Regions from separate parts of the Homo sapiens genome. Here region 1 is linked to region 2. The links come from fine-mapping of genetic effects on gene expression. A gene starts in region 2. The other region holds a variant in brackets. All regions are shown on one strand. Distances are between the middles of the regions. Region 1 overlaps DLGAP4 (DLG associated protein 4). Region 2 holds the start of DLGAP4 (DLG associated protein 4).

The links. PIP is the estimated chance that this variant, and not a neighbour inherited with it, causes the effect.
Region 1: its variant is fine-mapped to the expression of DLGAP4 in whole blood (TOPMed, PIP 0.99).

Annotation. Positions count from the first base shown.
Region 1 is chr20:36,419,034-36,430,509 of GRCh38, forward strand. All of the region lies in intron 2 of DLGAP4 (DLG associated protein 4), which reads left to right. Among named protein-coding and RNA genes, the nearest start is that of MYL9, 120 kb to the right of the region's middle. The variant C/T (reference allele first, on the strand shown) is at 5,973.
Region 2 is chr20:36,299,428-36,310,903 of GRCh38, forward strand. It overlaps DLGAP4 (DLG associated protein 4), which reads left to right and starts at 6,912. Exons shown (of 13, transcript NM_001365621.2): 1 at 6,912-7,085.

The DNA of each region.
Region 1 (11,476 bases), 120 kb after region 2:
GATGTGGGGCCTAGAGAGGTGACTTCAGCCATTGAGCTGCTGCTTCTCCTCTAACATGGGTAGATTCGTGACCTATTTCTTTCTTTCTTTTTTTTTTCTTTTTTTTGAGATAGGGTCTTACTCTTGTCACCTAGACTGGAGTGCAGTGGCAAAATCATGGCTCACTGTAGTCTCGACCTCCTTGACTCAAGCAATCCTCTCATCTCAGCCTCCTGAACAGCTGGGACTACAGCTGCGTGCCACCATACCCAGCTAATTTTCTCATGCTTTATTTTTTGTAGAGATGGGGTCCTCGTTATGTTGCCCAGGCTGGTTTTGAACTCCTGGCCTCAAGTGATCTTCCTGCTCAGCCCAAAGTGCTGGGATTATAGGTGTGAGCCACTGTACTTGGCCCTCAGTGACCTATTTCTGCATAGTAAATCACCCCAAAACTTGGCCATGGTTTCCAGCAATAAATATGTATCATCTCACAGAGCTTCTAGGGGTCAGGAATCGGGTAATGGCTCAGGGTCTTTCATGAGATGCAGTCAAGTTGTCAGCTACTGCCATCTGAAGTCCTACTTCAGGGGCTACTGCCATCCGAAGTCCTAACTGGGGCTGCAGGATCCCCTTCCAAGGTGGTTCACCCACAGGGTTGGCAAGTTAGTGCTGGCTGTTGGCAGGAGGCCTCAGTTCCTTCCACATGGCCCTCTCCTTAGGACTACTTGAGTGTCCTCACAACATGGCGGCTAACTTCTCCAAGGGAGCAAAGCAGAAGCTGCAGTGTCTTTCCTGACCTAGCCTCAGAGGTCACACTTGGTCATCTCCACAATATCCTATTGGTGACACCGGTCAACCCTGCACATGTTAAGGGAGAGGGGTGTACACAAGGATGGGACTTCAGGAGGTGGGGACCACCGGGGTGTATCTTGGAGGCTGGCTGCCATGGTGGATGCAATATTCCCAGCAGGAGGAGTTGTAGTGAGGATTAAATGAGCTCACATAATGTGAAGCACCTGGTATACAATAAGCACTCAATAAAGGATCACACACAGCTCTCCCCACTAGCCTGATTGGCTTGAGTGGAAAACTTAACTACCCTGTAGCTGCCTCACTTTCTGGATCATTTCTTGGCGTCCCCAAGGCCTTCCACCACTCTTTCATTCAACACAATCTTCATGAACACCTACTATATCCAAGCCCCGTGCTGGATGCTGGAGACGCAGTGGTGGCAGAGACACAGTCTGTACTTGCTGTTCCAGGCTGCTTCGGGCATACATCAGAGCAGAGAGGGGCTGGCAGACGAGGAGCTGCTTTGGACAGTGTGGTCAGGGATCGCCTCTCAGTGGATGTAGCCTGTGAGCCAAGTCCTGAATGAAGTGAGGGGGCATTGTGTGGACACAGGAGGGAAGAGCACTCCAGGCAGCTGGATCAGGTAGGGCAAAAGCAGGAGCAAACCATCCATGTCCCAAGGACAGAATGAAGACCCAAGGGAAGAGGGGCAGGAAATGAGGTCGGGAAAGCCAGAAGAAGACTGGTTTTTGGCCAGGCGCAGTGACCCACACCTGTAATCCCAGCACTTTGAGAGGCTAAGGTGGGCGGATCACCTGAGCCCAGGAGTTCAGGACTGGCCTGGGCAACATGGGGAAACCTTGTCTCTATAAAAAACACAAAAATTAGGCTGGGTGTGGTAGCTCACACCTGTAATCCTAGCACTTTGGGAGGCCGAGGCGGGCGGATCACCTGAGGTCGGGAGTTCAAGCCCAGCCAAACCAACATGGAGAAACCCAGTCTCTACTAAAAATTCAAAATTAGCCAGGCGTGGTGGCGCATGCCTGTAATCCCAGCTACTCTGGAGGCTGAGGCAGGAGAATCGCTTGAACCTGGGAGGCGGAGGTTTCAGTGAGCCAAGATTGTGCCATTGCACTCCAGCTTGGGCAACAAGAGCGAAAACTCTGTCTCAAGAAAAAAAAAAAATTAGTAGCCGTGCCTGTGGTGCACAGCTATAGTCCCAGCTACCCAGGAAGCTGAGACCGGAGGATCTCTTGAGCCCAGGAGGTCAAGGCTGCAGTGAGCTATGAACATGCCACTGCACTCCAGCCTGGGCAAAAAACACAGCAAGACCCTATTTCAAAAAATAATACTAATAAAGAAGACTAGGGGCCGGGCGCGGTGGCTCATGCCTATAATCCCAGCACTTTGGGAGGCCGAGGCAGGGAGATCACTTGAAGTCAGGAGTTGGAGATCAGCCTGGCCAACATGGTGAACCCCCGTGTCTGCTAAGAATACAAAAAAATTGGCTGGGCGTGGTGACGTGTGCCTTTAATCCCAGCTGTTTGGGAGGCTGAGGCAGGAGAATCGCTTGAACCTGGGAAGCAGAGGTTGCAGTGAGCCGAGATCGCACAACTGTACTATGGTCTGGGTGACAGAGTGAGACTGTCTCAAAAAAAAAAAAAAAGAGAGAATAGGTTTTAGTCCAAGGGCCATGGGAGTCTTTGAAAGGATCTGAACAGCAGTCATCTGAGTGAGAGATAGTGGGGACTCGGCCTGGGGCAGGGCTGTGGAGGTGGTAGGTGGAGGAACTCTGGGGATATGTGGAAGGGAGACTTGTTTTTACAGTTTGTGCTGCTGAATGGGATGCTGGGGTAGTGAAAGAGGAGTCAAGGGTACTTCCCGGTTTCTGACCTGAACAAGCAGGAGGATGATGTTGTCATGAGTAGAATCGGGGCAGACTGTGGGCGGAGCAGGTCGGGGCGGGTGAGAGATCCCGTGTTCTATCTTGGACCTGTCAGACATCCAGGGCAAGATGTCAAGGAGGCAGTTAGAGATCTGAGTCTGGCGTCTGAGAGACAGATTGGGCGGAAGATGTAAATTCAGGAGTTGTCAGATAGGTGGTGTTTAAGGCCATGCGTCAGGATGAGATCAGCAGAGGAGAGGGTGTGTTAGAGCAAGGCGGAGAGCACCCGGGTCCTCTAGCATTTAGACGTCAGAGGAGAGAAGCCAGCAAGAGCCGGAGCAGGTATGAGAGATGTGGGTTGAGCACGGGAAGGGTGCCCAAAGACACAGCCATGGCGCAACACAGCCAGCCACTCTCTACCTTCACCCCACCCCAGGCAGCAGCAAGGCCCTGGAGGCCCCCACAGAATCCATCCTTCCCCTTCCACACATCGTCCCTTCAGAGGTCTAAGGCAGAGAATGTGTCCTCCATGGACTGCTATGTACACCCCCAGAATGTTCGGCCATTCCACCTCACTTCATTTCTAAGCCTTCATCATCTAACTCAGCATTGAGCAGGACCACCCCTCCCTTCACTTAGACTCTCTACCTCTGTTAATGCAACCTTAGACAGAAGTAGGCTTTCTGGTAGTAACAAATATACAAGATATGAGTGGGGAATTGTAAGGGATCCAGGCTGGTTAAAGGGAAGGGCCGTCAAGAAAGGAAATGGGATTGGTAATATCTGAAAAGGTTTATGGTTAGATCAGTGAGGGTCTTGATTGCCACACCAAGCAGTTTGGACTGAGGTGGGAAGAAGGATTCACAGAAGGTTCTGGCTTAAGGGAATGATGCAGTCAGGTGAGTTTTGTGTCAGGAAGAGCCATGCTAGGTTCTGTTCCTGGCCTTGTCCCTAATTAGCTCTCCCATGCTCACAGGCCCACTCTGGCACCACGATGAGATGAGGTAGGGCAGGGAGGTCTCACTCTGGCATGTGGGGGTGGCGGCTGCAGACACAGAGGCACCATGGAGCAGGGAGGTTCCCAGGGAGGCAGCAGCTTTGCTGGGCCCTCCACGTTTCCATAAGGGCAATGATGCTTATATTAATGAGCAGTAATTATGGGCACCCGGGTGGGCCTAAGTATAGCTCATTGAAAAAGGCAGCTCGAGGCAGCCAGCTGCTTCCCCCTGCAAGGGCAAGGCCTGCCTATTTTAAGACCTCCCTAAGGTGAGGATCCTGCCACCCTAGGTGTTGGGTGGCTGAGGGCCTGTCACCCACTGGGCCAGGAACCCTGATCAAGGGAGCTCAGAGGAGTCAGGGTGACCAGATGCTCAGACCGTCCTCATTCAAGCCCCCCATTGCCTAGAGGAGGAAACTGAGGCACAGAAGGGGGAAAGGACCAGTACGAGGTCACAGCAAATAAATAGCAGGTTTAGAATTTAAATCCAAGGGGTCTGGCATGGTGGCTCATGCCTGTAATCCCAGCATTTTGGGAGGCTGAGGCGGGCGGATCACTTGAGCTCAGGAGTTCGAGACCTGGCCAATGGTGAAACCCCGTCTCTACCAAAAGTACAAAAATTAGCCAGGCGTGGTGGCAGGCAACTGTAATCCCAGCTATTGAGGAGGCTGAGGCAGGAGAATTCCTTGAACTCGGGGGGCAGAGGTTGCAGTGAGCCAAGATCACACTACTGAACTCCAGCCTGGGTGACAGAGCAAGACTCCGTCTCAAAAAAAAAAAAAAAAAAAAAAAAAAAAGGACAGTATTTGAATACAGGTCCAACTACATGCAGTTTCCACCATGCCGTGCAGCATTCCTCACCTGGAAGCTTTGGCCTGTCCCCAAGAAGCACAGTATAGTGAGGTGAGGAGGGGAACAGAGTGTGACTGATACTGATTGGGCATCGAAATGCGAGGCTTTCTATATGACATCACAGTTCAACCTTATTATAATTTTTAAAAGTAAGGATCATGGCCAGTAATCCCAGCACTTTGGGAGGCCGAGGCGGGTGGATCATCTGAGGTCAGGAGTTCGAGACCAGCCTGGCCAACATGGGGAAACTGTCTCTACCAAAAATACAAAATGTAGCTGGGCACGGTGGCGCTCACCTGTAATCCCAGCTACTCGGGAGGCTGAGGCGGGAGAATTGCTTGAACCCGGGAGGCAGAGGTTGCAGTGAGCCGAGATCATGCCGCTGCACTCCAGCCCGAGTGACAGAATGAGACTCGGTCTAAAAAAAAACCGAAAACGGATCATTATCCCCATGTTACAGAAGAGGAAACCGAGGCTCAGGGGGAATGACTGAATCACCAAGTGTCCTGCAGTGAGGAGGGGAAGAAGTAGAATCCAGTTCCGTCCTATCTCAGGTCAGCTTCCCCAGGAAACAGACTCAGGTTTGCATGAGAAGTTTCCTGGGAAATCAGTTCGGAACATCTGTGACAGGTGAAGGGGACAGGATTGGGCAGAGGGAAGAGGTGAACCTCAATACAGCACAACAGAGGCCTCAGCGAATCCCATAGGGAGCTCTGGAACTGGGATGGCCCTTTAGGGTTGTTCTGAATTGGGGCAAGGGAGCCACACCTTGGTACCCAAACATTGACCAGTTATTGGATGCAGGGTGCCCCTGGGAAGGAGCATAAGGACAGACTATGGGTGGAGCAGGTCAGGGTGGGTGGGAGAATGAGTTCTGTATCTTGGACCTGTCAGACTTCCAGGGCAAGATGTCAAGGAGGCAGTTAGAGATCCAAGTCTGGCATCTTGGGTGAGGCATCTCCCTTTGGCTGAGAGCAGCTCCTAGCGGGAACTTGGCTGTGAATTGTCAGCAGCCAATGCTCTTGGCAGCTGGGGTTGTGAGTGCCTCTGTGCAGGGGGGTCCTGGGTGGCCATCACAGCATCCACTGCACATCCATCTCCAGAGCCGTTCTCATTCCTCTGACCCCAGATGAGAACCAGCCCCTGCTCTCAGGAAAGTTACGGGCACATGGACTCCTGTTTTTTTGTTTGTTTTGTTTGTTTTTTTTTTTTTTTGAGACAGAGTCTTGCTCTGTCACTCAGTCTGGAGTGCAGTGGCACAATCTCAGCTCACTGCAACCTCTGCCTTTCAGATTGAAGTGATTCTCCTGCCTCTGCCTCCCAAGTGGCTGGGATTATAGGCTCAAGCCACCACGTCTGGCTAATTGTTGTATTTTTAGTAGAGATGGGGTTTCGCCATATTGGGCAGGGTGGTCTCAAATTCCTGACCTCAAGTAATCCAGGCGTGAGCCACCATGCCCAGCCTTA[C/T]ACTCCTTTTCTTTATGGTGCTCACAGGCCAGGGGATGCTGGGGGGAAGGGAAGCCATCAGTGCTAATGGGGAAGGAAAGAGCGAGTAAGTGGTCAGTCCTGGAAGAGGAGAAAAATACTACCAAAACCCCACAAAGACAGAATGGGAGAAAATATTTACAAACCATATATCTGCTAAGGGTTCAATATCTAGAATATATACAAAGAATTCCTAGAGCTTAACAACAAAAATGACAAACAACCCAATTATAAAATGGGCAAAGGACTTAAATAGACATTTCTCCCAAGAAGATATACAGACAGCCAATAAGCACATGGAAAGATGCTCAACATCATTAGTCATCAGGAAAATGCAAATCAAAGCCACAGGGAGATACCAGTTCACACCTACTAGGATGACTATAATTTTTTTAAAAAGGAAATAAGTTCTGGCAAGATCTGGGAAAACTGGAACCCCTGTATATTGCTGGTGGGAACGTCATATGGTGCAGCTGCTATGGAAAACAGTTTGGTGGTTCCGCAAAAAGTTAAACATAGGGGCTGGGCGTGGTGGCTCGCCTGTAATCCCAGCACTTTTGGAGGCCAAGGCGGGTGGATCACAAGGTCAGGAGTTCAAGAACAGCCTGGCCAAATGGTGAAACCCCGTCTCTACTAAAAATACAAAACATAGCCAGGTGCAGTGGCGGGCACCTGTAATCCCAGCTACTCGGGTTGCTGAGGCAGGAGAATCACTTGAACCCAGGAGGCGGAGGTTGCAGTGAGCCAAGATCATGCCATTGCACTCCAGCCTGGGCGACAAGAGCAAGACTCCATCTCAAAAACAAAACAAAACAAAAGTTAAACATAGAATTACTGTATGATCCAGCAATTCCACTTGGATATTAACCCAAAACAATTGAAAACAGAGACTCAAACAGATACTTGGACACCATTGTTTGTAGCAATATTATTCACAATAGCCAAAAGGTAGAAACAACCCAGGTGTCCATCCAAAGATGAATGGATTAAACAAAATGTACTATATATGCAGGATGGAATATGATGCAGCCATAAAACGGAATGAAGTTCTGACCCATGCTACAACATGGGTGAACTTAGAAAACAAACATTATGCTACGTGAAATAGGTCAGACACAAAATAACAAATGTTATATGATTCCACATATTGAGAATATTTAGCATAGGCAAATTCAGAGAGACAGAAAGTAGGTTAAATATTACTAGGGGCCGCCAGGCATAGGGCTCACATCTGTAATCCCAGCACTTTGGGAGGCCAAGGCAGGCATTTCACTTGAAGTCAAGAGTTCAAGACCAGCCTGGCCAACATGGTGAAACCCGTTCTCCACTAAAAATACAAAAATTAGCTGGGCATGGTGGCATGCGCCTCTAATCCCAGCTACTTGGGAGGCTGAGGCACGAGAATCGCTTGAACCCAGGAGGCAGAGGTTGCAGTGAGCCGAGATCGCACCACCGCACTCCAGCCTGGGTGACAGAGCGAGACTCTCAGACTCTGTCTCAAAAAAAAAAATGAATAAAAGAAATTACCAGGGGCTAGGAGAAGGAGGAGAAAAGAAGTTTTTGCTTAATGGGTACAGAGTTTCTGTTTGGGGTGATGGAATGGTTTTGGAAATAGATCATAGTGGTGGTTACACAACATTGTGAGTGTCCATAATGCCCCACTGAATTGCACGCTTAAAGATGGTTAAAATGGCAAATTTTATGTTACATGTATTTTGCTACAATAAAAGTAATACCTACGGGAAATAGGAAAATTCATAGACACGGAAAGTATCTATGGACGTGGTTGTCAGAAGCTGGGAAAAGGGGAAAATAGGGAATGACTGCTTATTGGGGATGCGGTTTGCTTTTGGGGTTATGAAAATGTTTCAGGGCTGGGTGTGGTGGCTCATGCCTGTAATCCCAACATTGTGGGAGGCTGAGGCAGGAGTATTGCTTGAGCCCAGGAGTTCCAGACCAGCTTGGGCAACATAATGAGACTCCTGTCTGTACCAAAAAAAAAAAAAATGTTTTTTCTAATTAGCTGGGCATGTACCTATAGTCTCAGCTACTCAAGAAGCTGATGTGGGAGGACATTTGAGCCCAGGAGATCAAAGCTGCGGTGAGCTATGATCACACCACTGCACTCCAGCCTCGGCAACAGAGCGAGACCCTGTCTCAAAAGAAAGAAAGAGGCTGGGTGCAATGGCTCATGCCTGTAATCTCAACACTTTGGGAGGCCGAGGCAGGCGGATCATGAAGTCAGGAGTTAGAGACCAGCCTGGCCAACATAGTGAAACCCCATCTGTACTAAAAATTACAAAAATTAGCCGGATGTGGTGGCATGCACCTGTAGTCCCAGCTACTCAGGAGGTTGAGGCAGGAGAATCGGTTGAACCTGGGAGGCAGAGGTTGCAGTGAGCTGAGACCACACCATTGCACTCCAACCTGGGTGACAGAGTGAGAGTCCATCAAAAGAAAGAAGTGGGAGGGAGGGAGGGAAGGAAGGAAGGAAGGAAGGAAGGAAATATTTCGGAACTAGATGGAGGTAGTGATTACACAGCATTGTTACTAAATGTCACTAAATTGTACACTTTAAAATGACTAATTTTATGTTACATTAATTTCTCCTCAGTTTTTTTTTAAAAAAGGAAAAAAGGCTGGGTGCAGTGGCTCACGCCTGTAATCCCAGCATTTTGGGAGGCCAAGGTGGGTGGATCACAGAAGGTCAGGAGTTCGAGACCAGCCTGGTCAACATGGTGAAAACCTGTCTCTACTAAAAATACAAAAATTAGCTGGGCGTGGTGGTGCGTGCCTATAATCCCGGCTACTAGTTAGGCTGAGGCACGAGAATCGCTGGAACCCAGGAGGCAGAGGTTGCAGTGAGCTGAGACCACCCCATTGCACTCCAGCCTGGGCGACAAGAGCAAGACTCCGTGTCAAAAAATAAAAATAAAAAAGGGAAAAAAAACTGGAAAAATACAATCCATAATATGCAGCTAATAGATACTCAGGGGAAAATATATAGCTTTTCTGTGACACATTTATTAGAGTATAAGGAGATCAGAAAACAAATGAACTAAACGTCCAACTCAAAAAGGTGGAAAAGGTGTTAGAATAAGAAAGTGTGCTGAACCCAGCTTTAGCAGGGGTGAGGGAGGGAGGCACCTTGCAAGAGGAGGGTTGAACCTCTAGGACTATACTGTCAACCTGGTAGCCACTTGCCACATGTGCTATTTAAATTAAATTAATTAAACTTTTTAAAAAATTAAAAATTCAGTTTCCCAGTCGCACTAGCTGCATGTCAAGTGCTCTGTGGCCCAGTGGCTACCATATTGGACAGCTCAGATCTAGGGGAAGATGGACAAGAAACTAGCAAACAAGTAAACACATGAGAGTTTCCCAGAGCAGTGAGAGCTATGAAGAAATCCTGAAGGGTGTGAGCTTGGCTGGCAGGTGGACAGTAAGAGATGGGAACAAGGTTGGAGAAGCTGGTGGAAGCTGGGCCATGCTGGGCCAGATGGACATCCACTCTTTGCTGAGGCCACCTGGTACCGTCCCATCCTCCCCACCCTCTGCCCCTCAGCTGGTGGATCCAGCCCCCACACTGTCCCCTTTCTTTGCACATCCTCCAGTTCAGCAGGGCCAGTGGGCTGGGTGGGGCCTGCGTTAAGAGTCAAGAAGACCTGGGTTCCAGTCCTGGTTCCGTGTGGCTTTGTGCTGTCTGGTTCCCAGACTGGCGCACTTTGTCTCATAGGATGTTCTAGAGGTCAGAGTCTAAAACGGATTGCAGAGCTACATTCTCTCTGGAGGCTCTAGGGGAGAATTCATCTCTTTTTTTGAGACACAGTCCCACTTTGTTGCCCAGGCTGGTCTCAAACTCCTGGCCTCAAGCAATCCTCCTGCCTTGGCCTCCCAAAGTGCTGGGATTACAGGCGTAAGCCACCATGCCCAGCCATCTCTGCCAGCTTCTGAAGGCTGCCTGCATTCCTTGGCTCATGTCTCCACATCACTCTGATCTCTGCTTCTGTTGGCACATCTCCTCTGACTCTGACCTTCCTGCCTGTTTATTTATTTATTTATGTATTTATTTTTGAGACAGAGTCTCACTCTGTTGCCCAGGCTGGAGTGCAGTGGCACAATCTCGGCTCACTGCAACCTCCACCTCCAGGTTCAAGTGATTTTCCTGCCTCAGCCTCCCAAGTAGCTGGGATTATAGGCGCACGCCATCACACCCAGTAATTTTTGTATTTTTAGTAGAGATGGGGTTTCACTACGTTGGCCAGGCTGGTCTCAAACTCCTGACCTCAAGTGATCTGCCCTGCCTTGGCCTCCAAAAGTGCTGGGATTACAGATATGAGAAACCATGGCTGGCCCATTCCTGTTTCTTTTTTTCTTTTTTTTTTTTTTTTTTTTTTTTGAGACAGAGTCTTATTCTGTCACCCAGGCTGGAGTGCAGTGGCACGATCTCAGCTCACTGCGAACTCTGCCTCCTGGGCTCAAGTGATTCTCCAGAAGCCTCAGCCTCCCAAGTAGCTGGCATTACAAGCACACACCCCACACCCAGCTAATTTTTTGTTTTTTGGTAGAGATGGGGTTTCACTGTGTTGGCCTGGGTGGTCTCAAACTCCTGATCTCAAGTGATCCACCTGCCTTGGCCTCCAAAAGTGCTGGGATTACAGGTGTGAGCCACCATGCCCAGCCCATGCCTCTTTCTTATAGGGACCGTGTGATTAGCTTGAGCCTATCCAGATAATTCATGATAGTCTCCCCATCTCAAGATCCTTAATCACATTTGCAAAATAACCACACCTGCCAAGTTCCTTTTGACAAGGTCATGGGCATATTTGGGGGCCATTATTCTGCCCTCCATACTTGATGTCAGCCAGAGCCTTTGTGCTGTGACCTGACCCAGCCCCTCTGAGAGCCCTCCCTCCACAAACCTTGTCCTCACTTGCTCTGCTCCAGCCACACTGACTCTTTGCCAATCCTCAGCACACCAGGCTCAGGCCAAACCAAGTCTTGGTACTCCCACGTACAGGGCCGGTGGGCTTAGAAACCTCGCCAACCTCTCTGCTCCATGGCAGACAGGAAGATTGAGGCCCAGGCTCAGAAAAGGAAGGGACTTACCTAAGTTTTGGACTAGTATTTCCAGGATGTTCCCATTTTACAACAGGGGAAACTGAGGCACAGCAACTGCACCTAAATGCCACCCTCTTGTGAGCCCTTGCCTTGCTTGTCCTGAGGACGTGCCCCTGTTATTGACTCTGAGAGCTCTATTCCAGGCCATCTTTGCTTCATCTCAATTGGAAATGATGGGCCTATGGGCTTGTTGGCCTCTTTGGTGTCAGAAGCCCTCAGCACCTGCCCAGCAGTCATACTTGGTAGACATTCGGTGAAGGGCAGAGCAGGTTTTTGCAGAGGGCTTCCATTTGACATAGGAATTCCTCTGTTAAACAATTGGACGGTACTGCCCTCAGACCTGGATGAGATGGGCCCTTGCCCTA
Region 2 (11,476 bases):
TCCTGGCACCAAAGAGCAGGAACAGAGCAATGGACCCTGCTCTGCATTTGCCTTACTTGGTGGCCCTGAAAAAGTCCCAGCCCTCCAGCCTTGTGGCCTGGGGGTGAATGGGAGGTACTACTGCAAGGGAGGTGGGCAGGGAGAAGGTGAATTGGGGCTGGTGAGTTCCGGGCTTAGAAGAGTAAAAGTGAAGGTCTCAGGGTGCTCCTGAGCTGGGCAGAAATTCATTCATTCATTCATTCATTCATTCATTCATTCACTCATTTATTCATTCGTTCAACTCATATCTACTGAACTGAACACCTTCCTCCTCTCTGCCAGGCAATGAGCACACCTCATTTCACGTTTTCCTCAGAATATCCTTGTTATGAGATTTTTGCCCCCACTGTGCAGATGAAGAAACTGAGGCTCTGAGAGGCGAAATGAATCACCCAAGTCCACAAAGTCAAAGATTCAAGCAGGGCACGGTAGCGTGCACCTGTAATCCCAGCTACTGGGGAGGCTGAGGTGGGAGGATCACTTGAGCCCAGGAGTTTGAGGCTGCATTGAGCCATGATCATGCCACTGCACTCCAGCCTGGGCTGCAGAGCCAGACCCCATCTCCAAAAAAAAAAAAATCAACAGTTCTTTCCCAGCCTTGTCCTCATTTTCTATAGATCACTATCACCTTCAATAAAAAGTCCTGATGCCTTGAGAGGACCTCACGGTCATGATGATCCAGCCCCTGCCAACCTTTCTGGCTTCACCTTTGAGCTCTCCAGGCTTCCGTCTCAGTGAGCTGCCAGTAGTGGCTCAGATGTGCCCCAGCCTGGCCTCCAGGTCTCTGAGCATGTCCTTACGCTGCAACGTCCCCTCTGTCTTCCCCTTGCTCTTCAGGCTAAGTCCTGCACAGCTTAGGGGTCACCTCTTCCTGTAACCCTTCTGACCCTCTCCCAAGGCTCAGTCAGTGCCCTCCAGGAGTGGTGGGTTTTCTTGTGTCTCCTCCGTGGGCAGCAAGCCCCTTGAGGCCAGTGACATTCCTCATGCAACTCTGCATCCCTGGTACCCAGGAGGGGCTGGACCTGGGTGGGTATCAGTGGGCACCAAGTGAGTGAATGAATGGATGAGATAAGGTACAGTGTGAAATTGCTACTCCTAGCCTCAATCATTTTGTTCTCTAAACATTTCCCAGGCACCTCCTCCATGCCAGGCCTGATGCCAGCCCCGGGGAAGACGATAACTCAGCCTTGCAATTCACTTTGTGGTTCACAACGTGCTTCCATTATAACAGTCCCAGCCACCCTGCAAAGTAGATGTTTGTGTTGTTTTGGGCTGTGTCCATTTTTTGAATGTGGAAACTGAGACCCAGTGAGGTTGGGTAACTTGCCCAGTCACAGCCAGTGTGTGACAGAGCCAAGATATGAATCCAGGCCTGTTCACTCCAGAGCCCACACTCCCCCACACCGGGAAAACAAATCAAAATAGAGCAAAGGAATACATGACACTTAGAAATTTATTTTGGAACAAATTTGGACAATATAGAAAATTTGGAAAATATAGGAGAGGAGAAAAAAGGAGGTAATTCTGCATAGCTCCCCTCCCCTGGGATACATGTCATTAAGTGTCATTAAAAGTTTGAGAATCTTCTGCTTGTTTTGGCTGAGCCTGGCCAAGTTCATATGATGCAAGCAGCACACGGTATGAACCCAGACTGTCAAATGCTGCCTTTTTAAATTTTTTTGAGGCAGGGTCTCCCTCAGTCACCCAGGCTAGAGTGCAGTGGTACAAACACGGCTCACTGCAGCCTTGACCTCCTAGGCTCAAGTGATTCTCCCACCTCAGCCTCCCAAGTAGCTGGGACTACAGGCATGCTCCACCACACCCAGCTAACTTTTTAATTTTGTAGGGATGGGGTCTCGCCATGTTGCCCAGGCTGGCCCTGGACTCCTGGCCTCAAGCAGTCCTCCTGCCTCAGCCTCCCAAAACACTGGGATTACAGGTATAACTGTGCAGGTCTCAAATACCATGCTTTGATATTAATTTAATGTGGCCTGAACCCCAAGGAGCTACTTCCAGTCTTGTGGGAGAGGAGGAAGTAACAGGTGTGCCTAAGCGGGGGTTCCCCCTAAGTGGACCCTGAAACAGGCACTTGAGTGCAGGTAGTTTATCTGAGAGGTGATCCTAGTCTGCAGGAGGGAGGCAGAGGAGGAGGGAAAGTCAGTCAGATGGGCATTTGCCAGCAGGGCACCACTGTGGGCCACTGGAGCTCCATCTTGCTGGGGACGTTCTGAAGAACAGTGGAAAGCGTGCCTGAGACTGTCTCCCTGAAGGCTCGGAGGCTGCAGCATTTCCTCTGTGACTCTTTTCCCCAAGGGACTGAAGGTTCTGCTGGGGGCCTTACTCTCCTGCATTTCCAAGCCGTCCTGTGCTTGGATGGGACAAGCTCTTGCAACTTCAGAAAATGCCATCAGGCAGAAAAGTGGAGAGACCTGGTGGGTGCTTGCAGCAGACCAGAGTTCAGGAGCTGTCCACCAAGGCTGCAGCAGAATTCAAGATGGGCACCAACAGCATTTGCTTTGAGACGTGGTGTGTCTTTGTCATCATAAAGTGTTTTGGGGGTATAAAACCAGGAATGAGACATAGAATGAGACATAGAAGTCAGGGGTGATTTCCCCAGAATAGGTGACATTCGAGTTGAATTTTGAAAGGTGACTACACAATGGGAGAAGAGGCATTTCAGGTAAAGGCTGAGGTGTGAAACAGCTTGTTGTCTTCAGGAGAAACTGCAGAGCTTGTACCTGAGTCATGGGGTTTGGCCAAGACTGGTTTGGTACAAGCTCAATGTCATCATTAGCTAGATATGGTCATTATCCGGATTTAATCATTATCAAATTACAGACCTGGTTTATATTCCACTTTCACTGCATCTCTGTGGACCTCTCCATCTCTTTTTCTGTCTTTGTCTCTATGAGTTTCTCTCTCTCTTTTTAAAAATACATACTTCAGATACACACAAGTGAGTTAAACTGAGTCCTTGGTTCATGACATGCCTTCAGCATTGGTGCATCAAGTCCTACAGTGTATATAATACAAGATAGTAGAAAGCATAATCTAACATATGCACCTTGAGCCACTGCTCACCCCAAGAACTAGAACAGAATCAGTATCTGACATCTGCCTCTGTGCTGCACCCCATCCCATCCCCCAGCTCTCTGCTGGAGGTCACTAAGATTCTGAATTTTGAGTTTATCCTCCCCTAGTTTCCTTGTTTTTAGTGTTATTACATGCATGCATACCTAATTAATATGTAGTTTGTTTTTACTTGTTTATTAATTTTATGTTAAAAAGTGCCATACTGTATATAGTCTTGTCTTTTCTTTTTAGCTCAATGCTGTTGATGAGCATGTGGCCATGTTGCTGTATGTAATCATGATTTATTTGTTCTGAAGGCTGTATGTGACTATACCATTATTTATTTCTTTTTTTATTCTCCCGTCGATGGACAGTCAGGCTGTCTTCTGGTCTTCTGCTATTGCAAACAGTGCTGTGTGGCTGTTCCTGCGCGTAAATCCTAAAGCTCTGCAAAATGCAGTCTGGGCATCCTCAGCCCGGGCATCACCTGGAAACTTGTTAGAAATGCAGAGTCTGGGGCCCTGCCCTAGCCCCGCCAGAACTGAATCTGCATTTTAACAAGACCCCTGGGGGATTCACTGGCTTATTCACGTTTGAGAAGCACTGGCCGAGTGTACCTCTGCATGGGTTTCTCTTGGGCATACACATCAGGAGTGGAAGTGCTGGGTCGCAGTGGGTGGCCCAGATCACCCTCTCGGCCGCAGCTTCGGAGCTGCCACTGAGCTAGAGCTTCCCCAGCTCTTGGTATTGTCCCACGTTCTCATTGTTGCCAGTCGACTGGGCGTGCAGTGGCATCTCATCATGGTCTTGACTTACATTTCCCCCATGACTAACGAGGTCAGGCACCTCCTCGTATGTTTACTGGCCATATGTTTCCCCTTCTGTGAAACGCCTGTTCCTGTTTTTTGCTCTTTTTTCTTTTAGGCTCACTCTACTCAATCCTGCCTTTGCATATACTGTTCTTTCCATCAGAAATGCCTTCCCCTTTCGCTACCCTGTGTCAGTTCTTCCAGGAAGCCCTCTCTGATTGCTGCTTAGGTTGTGAGCCTCCTCAGCCTCACAGGCAGGAAAACTCGGTGTCATTGTCCCTTCATTCTTCTCCTGAAGTCTCTTCCTCACTGGAGAGACTGTGAACCTATATGGCTTGGTTTGCATAGAGTTAACAATTTTTTCACTCTAGTTGCCATTATTTTCAGGGATTTTCTGAAGTTTTACATTTCAGAAAATCTTAACTGCTAGCTTCTCTTGAAAAAATAAGATATGGCTCCACTGTCTCCTTCCCTAGATGGCAAAATCAGCTAGTGCTGAGTAGGGGCTGCCCCTGCTGGACCATGTGTCACAGTCCCCACAACTCCAGGCTCACAACTTGCTTAAACAACCTGTCCAAGCCCTGTGGGCATTTGGGTTTGTGACCCTTGCCTAAGCGTGCCCAATGCTTGTTCCTCTAAAACTTGCCCTTCCTTCCCCTCCTCCCCATAACCCCATCCTTGTTCCCACTCAGGGCTTTGCATCTCTCCCCTGTGCCATCACACTAGCCTCCTTGACATTCCTTTCTCTAGTCTTGCCTGTTCCAGTCCACTGCCATGTCACACTCCTGCTCAAGAACCAGCAATGGCACCCCCTTGCCTTCCCAGGCACCACCTGACTTTCTACAAAACAAAAAAGTATTACAATAGGAATATTTTATGTCCACAAAAAAGTCTAGAGAACAACATGACAAACACCCATGTGCTCACCACCCCGGCTTAAGACATAAACCACTTCAAGTATATTTAAAGCCCTTACTACAACATTCCCTTCCCTCTCTCCCTCACGGTCACTACTCTCTTGAATTTGCTGTCTATCACTCCCATGCATGCTTTTACACTTGTATTACATATGTATGTGTCGCTAAACAATATATGGTATTGTGTTGTGTGTTTTCAAACTTTATGTATCTGGCATGAAATTATGTTTTCCATCTGCAACTTGCTTTTTCCATCCAACAATATATATTTTTATTTTAAAAATTGTATTGAAGTATAGCATTCATACAAAGAGCACACAAATTGTAAGTGTACAACCCTGGATTTTCACAAACTGAATCAACAGTGTGTTTTTGAGATTCAGCCTCACAATGCATAAGCTTGCAATCACCTATTTTGAGGATTGTGGATCACAGACAGTTTTCCATTGTCTGAATGTGTTGCTATTTATCCAGTTTCCAAATGATGGACATTTAGGCTGTGTCCAGCTTTTCACTATTACAAACGATGCTGCTATGAGCATCCTTGTGCAAGCCTCCCGGGCCCCCATGTGAGGTGTTCTCGAGGGCAAAGCCTGCTCATCTTCAACCTGATCATATATATACCGCCAGGTCGCTGTCCAGCCCCTGGCTCTCGCTGGCTCCCAGCTCATTCGCCAAGATCTTCCCACTGCTCCAGGGAGCCCACTCTCCTCCTTGCTGACACCCTGCCCAAACATGCCACCTCTTTGCCTGCTGCATGCAGGTGTTAAACTCACCTTTCCATCCAGGCTTTACTGAAGCCCTGCCTCTTCCAGGAAGCCCTCTTGGGCAGCGCTGGGCCTCAGGGTGTCATCTCCTCTGAGTGACCTCCTCTCACCCCAGTTGTTAGAGCCAGAGAAGATAGAGACAAACCCAGACCAGACACTGGGGAAAGGGGAATGTGTTCTGGAGAAAGGAAATATGGGTAGACTAGTAGGGAGTGTGAGAAGCTGGGGTACGAAACAGATTGCTCTGGGCCTTGATGGATGAGTAGGAGTTTGTCAGGTAGAGAGGTGGGAGGGCATGGCAGGCACAGGGAAAGGCAGAGGCTGGGCACTGAAACAGTCATCACTGGGTTGGGGATGTGAGCAGGGTGGGTGGGTGGTGGAGGAGACTGGAACAGGGCTGTGAGGAGCCTTGCAGGCCACCCTTTCACGCCATTCTGACCCTTCTGCATTCAGAGGCATTCTCTGGAGATGGCTGTGTGTGGGAGCCAGAGAAGGCAGGCACATTCATTTGACACCTACTGAATGCCAGGCACCGGTAAAGAGCTCATACCCATGATCTCTTTGGTTTCTCACCCAAGTTGGGGATAGAGACTCGTGGTGTCCCCATTTTACAGGTGGAGGAATGGGGCTCAGAGAGGGACAGTCTTTTGTCTGTAACCACAGAGCCAGGAGAGGCAGGGCTGGTACGCAGTTCAGGTTCATCCCACTCCAGAGACTGCATTTAACCCCCGTTCAGCCAGAGGCTAGAAGACACCTGGGAGAGGGTTCTGCGGAAGCAGGTCACCGGGAGGGGGCACCCATTCCTAGAGGCAGGAGCCCCAAGTTCTCGGGGGTGGGGTGGTTCCTGACTGGCGCGGTGTGACCCGGGCCAGTCTCGTTCTCTCTGGGCCTCAGTTTCCCTCCTCCACGGGGCGGCGATGGTCAACACAGGTTCCTGCCGGCCCGCCCCGTAGCCTGGGGTTCCAGGCTCCCGTGCCACCGCGGCCCGCGCTGTGTGACCTTGTTCCAGTAGCCTGCCCTCTCTGGACTGGCGGCCCCGGATTTCCAAGCGCTCTTCCGGATCGCGACAGAGCGGTCGCCCGCTGCGGAGACCCTCCCCCTTCCCCCGGGTTGCGGGGGCGTGGGTGGGGGTGGGGCGCCAGGAACGGCGCGGGCCCCCCCAAGGCCCCCCCAGCCCCGCGCCCGCGGCCCGATCCGCGCCTGGTTTTGGGCGCAGCCGCACGGCCCCCTCCCCCGCGCTCCTCTCCCCTCTCCCCGCCCCCTCCCCGCCGCTCTCGGGGAGCCGGGGCCGCACGGCTCCTCCTCCCGCAGCCGCATCTGGGGCGCCGCGCCGGCCGGAGGAGAGGCATGGGGCGCCCGCGGGCCGGAGCCGGGGCGGGGGCCGGGGCCTAGGCGCGCGGACCTGCGAGCGGACCCGAGAGGCGGCGGCGGCGCAGCGGAACGGCAGAGCGGGCCGGAGGCGGCCGAGGCGCCCGGCGCAGGTGAGGGCGCGGGGGTGGCGCGCGGCGGCTCCTACCCCCTTCCCGGGCCGGCGCGCTCCGTCCCTCGGCTAGACCCCCCGATCTGGTCTCCTCCCCGACAGACCTCCCTGAACCGGGGGACGGCGCTGGCGCAGAAAAGCCCCCTCCCCTGCCAGTTCTGTCTTCCGATCCCGGGTCCGAGGGGCCGGCTGTGCGGCTGGGAAGCGCCTTCTCCGGTTGGGATCGCCCCATCCATGTCTCCCCGGACCCTCAAATCGGGGGCGGCGGCACCGGGGCCCGGAACCCCTGTCCGGGACCGGATCCCCATTCCGGCTCTTTTTCCCGCGGACTCCCCCGTACCCCATATCAAGCGGCTGCCAAAGCCTGGAAGCCCCCTCCTCAGGCCCGCCCCCTAATCCGCAGGGCGGCCTGGGGGTCAGGCGGACCCCTCCCGTGCCCGGCCAACCTTGGCGCTTGGGAGAGCAGGGCTATGCCGGCCCGGGCATTCCTCCATTCAACCCAGCTGCCTCGGATCCCGTCTCGGTAGACCCGGGAGCCGCCGGCTCCCCCCTTCCCGAGCTCTTTCCCTGACCTGGCATCTGGGGAGGGGGCGGGGGCAGCACCCCCCTCCCGCGCTGCATAGCGCCCCCTCCCTGTTTGCGTCCCTGGGAGGGGCTGGGCTGACCCGGGCACCTGGGCTGGGGGGGCACTCACATGGCTACCGGAGGCCCCCACGTGCGGCGCCCCGCGGAGACAGGGGTTCGCGTTCAGAGCTGGTGGCGGATGGACCAGGTGGCCGCGGGGACCAGCTGGGTCCAGATGTGCTGGGCCTGCTGGAAGGGGACAGGTGCTACCTGGACGTGTAATGGCCCTTGGTCTCTTTTGGCCGAACCTGCCGCTCCGATCCCCCTCCATCCCTTCATCCCTCCATCCCTCCATCCCTCCATCCCTCCGGCCCTTCTCCCCTTCTTCCTCCGCTGCCTGTGTTGCAGAGAGGGGCTGTCAGAGACTGTTGATGTGGGAAAAAATGAAATGGGGGAGGGGTTGTGATTGGCAAAGGCCAGTTGTGCCGGGAGCGGTGGGTAGAGGAGGTGCCCTGAGAATGGGAAGCCCTAAGCTTGGAGGGCAGCGCTGATGGGGAGAGGGTTCCTGGCACCCCCACCTGCCTGGAAGTGGAAATGACATAGCGGGAGGGGGCTGCAGTTCCAGCCCCCGGGGGACTGGCCTGCCCTGCCTCTACCTCCACTGCACCTCCTCTCCAAGCCTAGTCCCCAGTAGGGAGGGGGGAGTCCTGGCTCTCTCTGCCTCTGAGCCCTCACTTGTGGGAGGGGGCTGTTTTCCGCCAGCTGGAAGTGGTGGGAATCAGTTGTACAGGACCATCTCCTAGAATGCCTGTTGGAAGAGCCCTGTTTCTGTCCCTCCTTGGTGGCCACCTCTCTCTTGCCTTCTCTGCCAGAGGGCACTGGGCTGCCTGGTCCCAGGGTGGGGCTGCAGAGCTGGTGCCCTGGCCTGGCCGATGGGTGGCTGGAGTGTTGGAGCCACCACCAGGCCCTAGAGCCGGCTGTCGGGGCCAGTCAGCAGCAGACTCCGAGTGTGTTCCCAGCAGCTCCGGAGACGCTGGCTGTGCACGTGGGGCTGGCTAGAGTGCCTGTCTCCCGCTGTGGCAGGGGTAGGCCAGGGATCCTGTGTCCTCCAGGAGCTGGGACAGCGCAACTCAACTTCTGGGAGTGTGCCCGTGTGTGGTGTCCATGGCGACCCCGTACTCACCTGCCAGAGGCCTGGTGAGGCCTGTGCTGGGCGCTGGGGAGTGCAATGGCTGACAGGGTCCCCACCTCCAGGAGCCTCTTTTTTGTTGGGGGAGGCAGCCTGTGTCAGGCATTGGAGACAGTGTCCATGCTGAAGAGAAACTGTGAGCTGGACGGGACCTGATGGCTGGGTTATGTGGAACCCCGGGTGCCAGCCTTGAGATGGAACTGCAGGTCTGAGGGCTGTGCCCCGGGCGTGAAGCTGCCTGGCAGCTGAGTTGGTGTTTTTGAAGGAAGGCTGTGCAGCACTTGGGAACTAGGAGAGAATGTGTGCTTTGGAGCTTTCGGGAGACGCTGACGTATCGGATGTATCGGGGCACCCACTGACATCTCATTAGGTTCTTGTGTGGTTTGTGAGCCACAGGCTTCGTAAATGCCAGCAGTTTCACATGATGGGGAGGCTCTGAGGAACTGTATCCCGGGCACCGTATGTGACAGAAGCAGGTGGTCCCTACCCTCCTATACTTCCGTGATGGGTATTCATTCATTCAGAAAAGCATTAGAAAATCGCATTTGCTAACATCAGTGCATTTGAACACTTTCATTTAAACATTCTGAAATGTGAATTAATAAAATCTTGAATGCAGGGTTTTTTTTTATAGAAAGTACACAGTAGGTACTCAATAAATGTCATGGCTCCCAGGATGAAACCCAACCTCCCCCTCCCCCAACTAGCTACTTTCTAGCCACCTCTTGCTCCCCACCCCCTCCCTCTTTGGCTCGGGTCCCCCTGGCGGGCCTTCAGTTCCTGGAACAGGCCACGTTCCCTCCAGCTTCAGGGTCTTCACACATGCTGGCTCCTCTGCCTGAACATCCCCAGCCCCCTTCTCCCACGTGCCTGTTTCACTACTGCTCATCACCCAAGCTTAAGCATCGCTTCCAAAAGAAAGCCTTCCTCGATGCCCAGGCCAGGCTGTGTCACTGTCACCACCCGCCCAGCCCCGTGGGCCTCTGCTTCATTACCCCGTGCCCATCCTTCTTGGATGTCTCTGGGTGTGGCTGGTGTGGAGAAGGGCAGGGTCGTGCCTGTCTCTTCACGCCATTCCTCTGGTGCTGAGAAGATGTCTTGGCTCAACGTGTGCACTCATCCATTTCTTTTGACTTTTGACGACCTGGTCCATTCTGAGTGGAGGGCTGGGCTCTGGGGAATGGGGGGAGACTTGGCCAGGCCATTGCCAACATGACTGTCCATGTGCGTTCCTGGCCTCCAGCTGGGTCTGCATACCCAGAGGCATTTAGCCAGGATCTGTGGGAGTTACAGGCCTGTAGCCCCTAAAGTCCCAGCAGGTCTGTGGGACCCCAAAGTCTCTACAAGAGGGAGAGGGGCCATGCTGGGGCAGACCTGGCATCTTTAGAGGTGTGCCCCTGGCCAGGCATTTCCCCCTGTGGCCATTCATTTGCTCACATCATCACCTGTTTACCTGTTCAGCCCTTCCTTCACTCGCCAGGTCACTGGCCTGTTCACTCTTCCATTTCCTAGTCCTCTGTCCGTTCTTTGGGCTACTAGTGCTTCCTGAGGCCCACTCAGTGTCCAGCCCTGTGCCAGGCTTGGGGACACAGAGTCAAACCTGTGAGGACCCCACTCTGTAAACTGTAGCCATCCTGCCAGGTGCTTCCTAGTGATGGAGACTGGTGCTGTCCAACCACTGGAAGTGCTTCATAAAGGACATGCGCTGAGCAGGGTTTTGGAGGATTTGGGGATTTGGGTAGATGGAGAATAGTGGGGAAGGACACTGCTGGCTGCAAGAACTGCATGGACAAGCACAGTGGCCCATGCTTGTAATCCCAGCACTTTGGGAGGCCAAGGTGGGAGGATTCCTTGAGTCCAGGAGTTTGAGACTAGTCTAGGCAACATAGTGAGACCCTGTCTCTACAAAAAAAAAAAAAGAAAGAAAGAAAGAAAGAAAGAAAGAAAGAAAGAAAGAAAGAAAGAAAGAAAGAAAGAAAAGAAAAGAATTGCATGGATAAAGGCAGGAAGGCAGCCACATGCTGGTTGAGCTTGGGGATGCTGAGGGTTATGTGTCCTTCTAAGAGGAGGTGGCCACTCCTGAGTGGGCCACAGGGAGGCTGGTGGTGGAGGGAGTAGGGTGCAGTCATGGTCGGCATCCACTCTTCTAGGAGCCCTGTTGCGAATTTGCTGTGTTTCTTTGGATGAGGCGTGTCCCCTCTCTGGGCTCCCTTGATAAAGTGAAGACTTGGACCTGATGATCTCTGAGGGACCTTCTGCCTTCCACTGTCCGAAGTCTGTGATCCTGGGAGCCCTGCATCTTGGGGCATCTGGTGGGCTGTCCTCCCATTTTCTGGACAAGGAAACTGAGCATTAGTTTAGTTTATTAGTAAGGTCTCCAAGGCTGCACAGCTGGTGAGGTGGAGGTGCCAGGGTTTGGATCCAGAGCAAGCCACTGGGTTTGCTGTAGTGGCTTTGAAGGACAGCTTTTGTGTGTAAGCTCCCAGGGCTGGCATCAGCGTGGGGCTGGCGAGGCTTGGCAGTTTCTTCTAACAGATGACCCTGTTGGTTAAGGGAGTGAGGGTGCTGGAGAGCAAACTCACTGGGCATCTTTGAGAAAAGCTGTCACCGAGGAGTCCTGTGTGTTGCACCAAAGACAA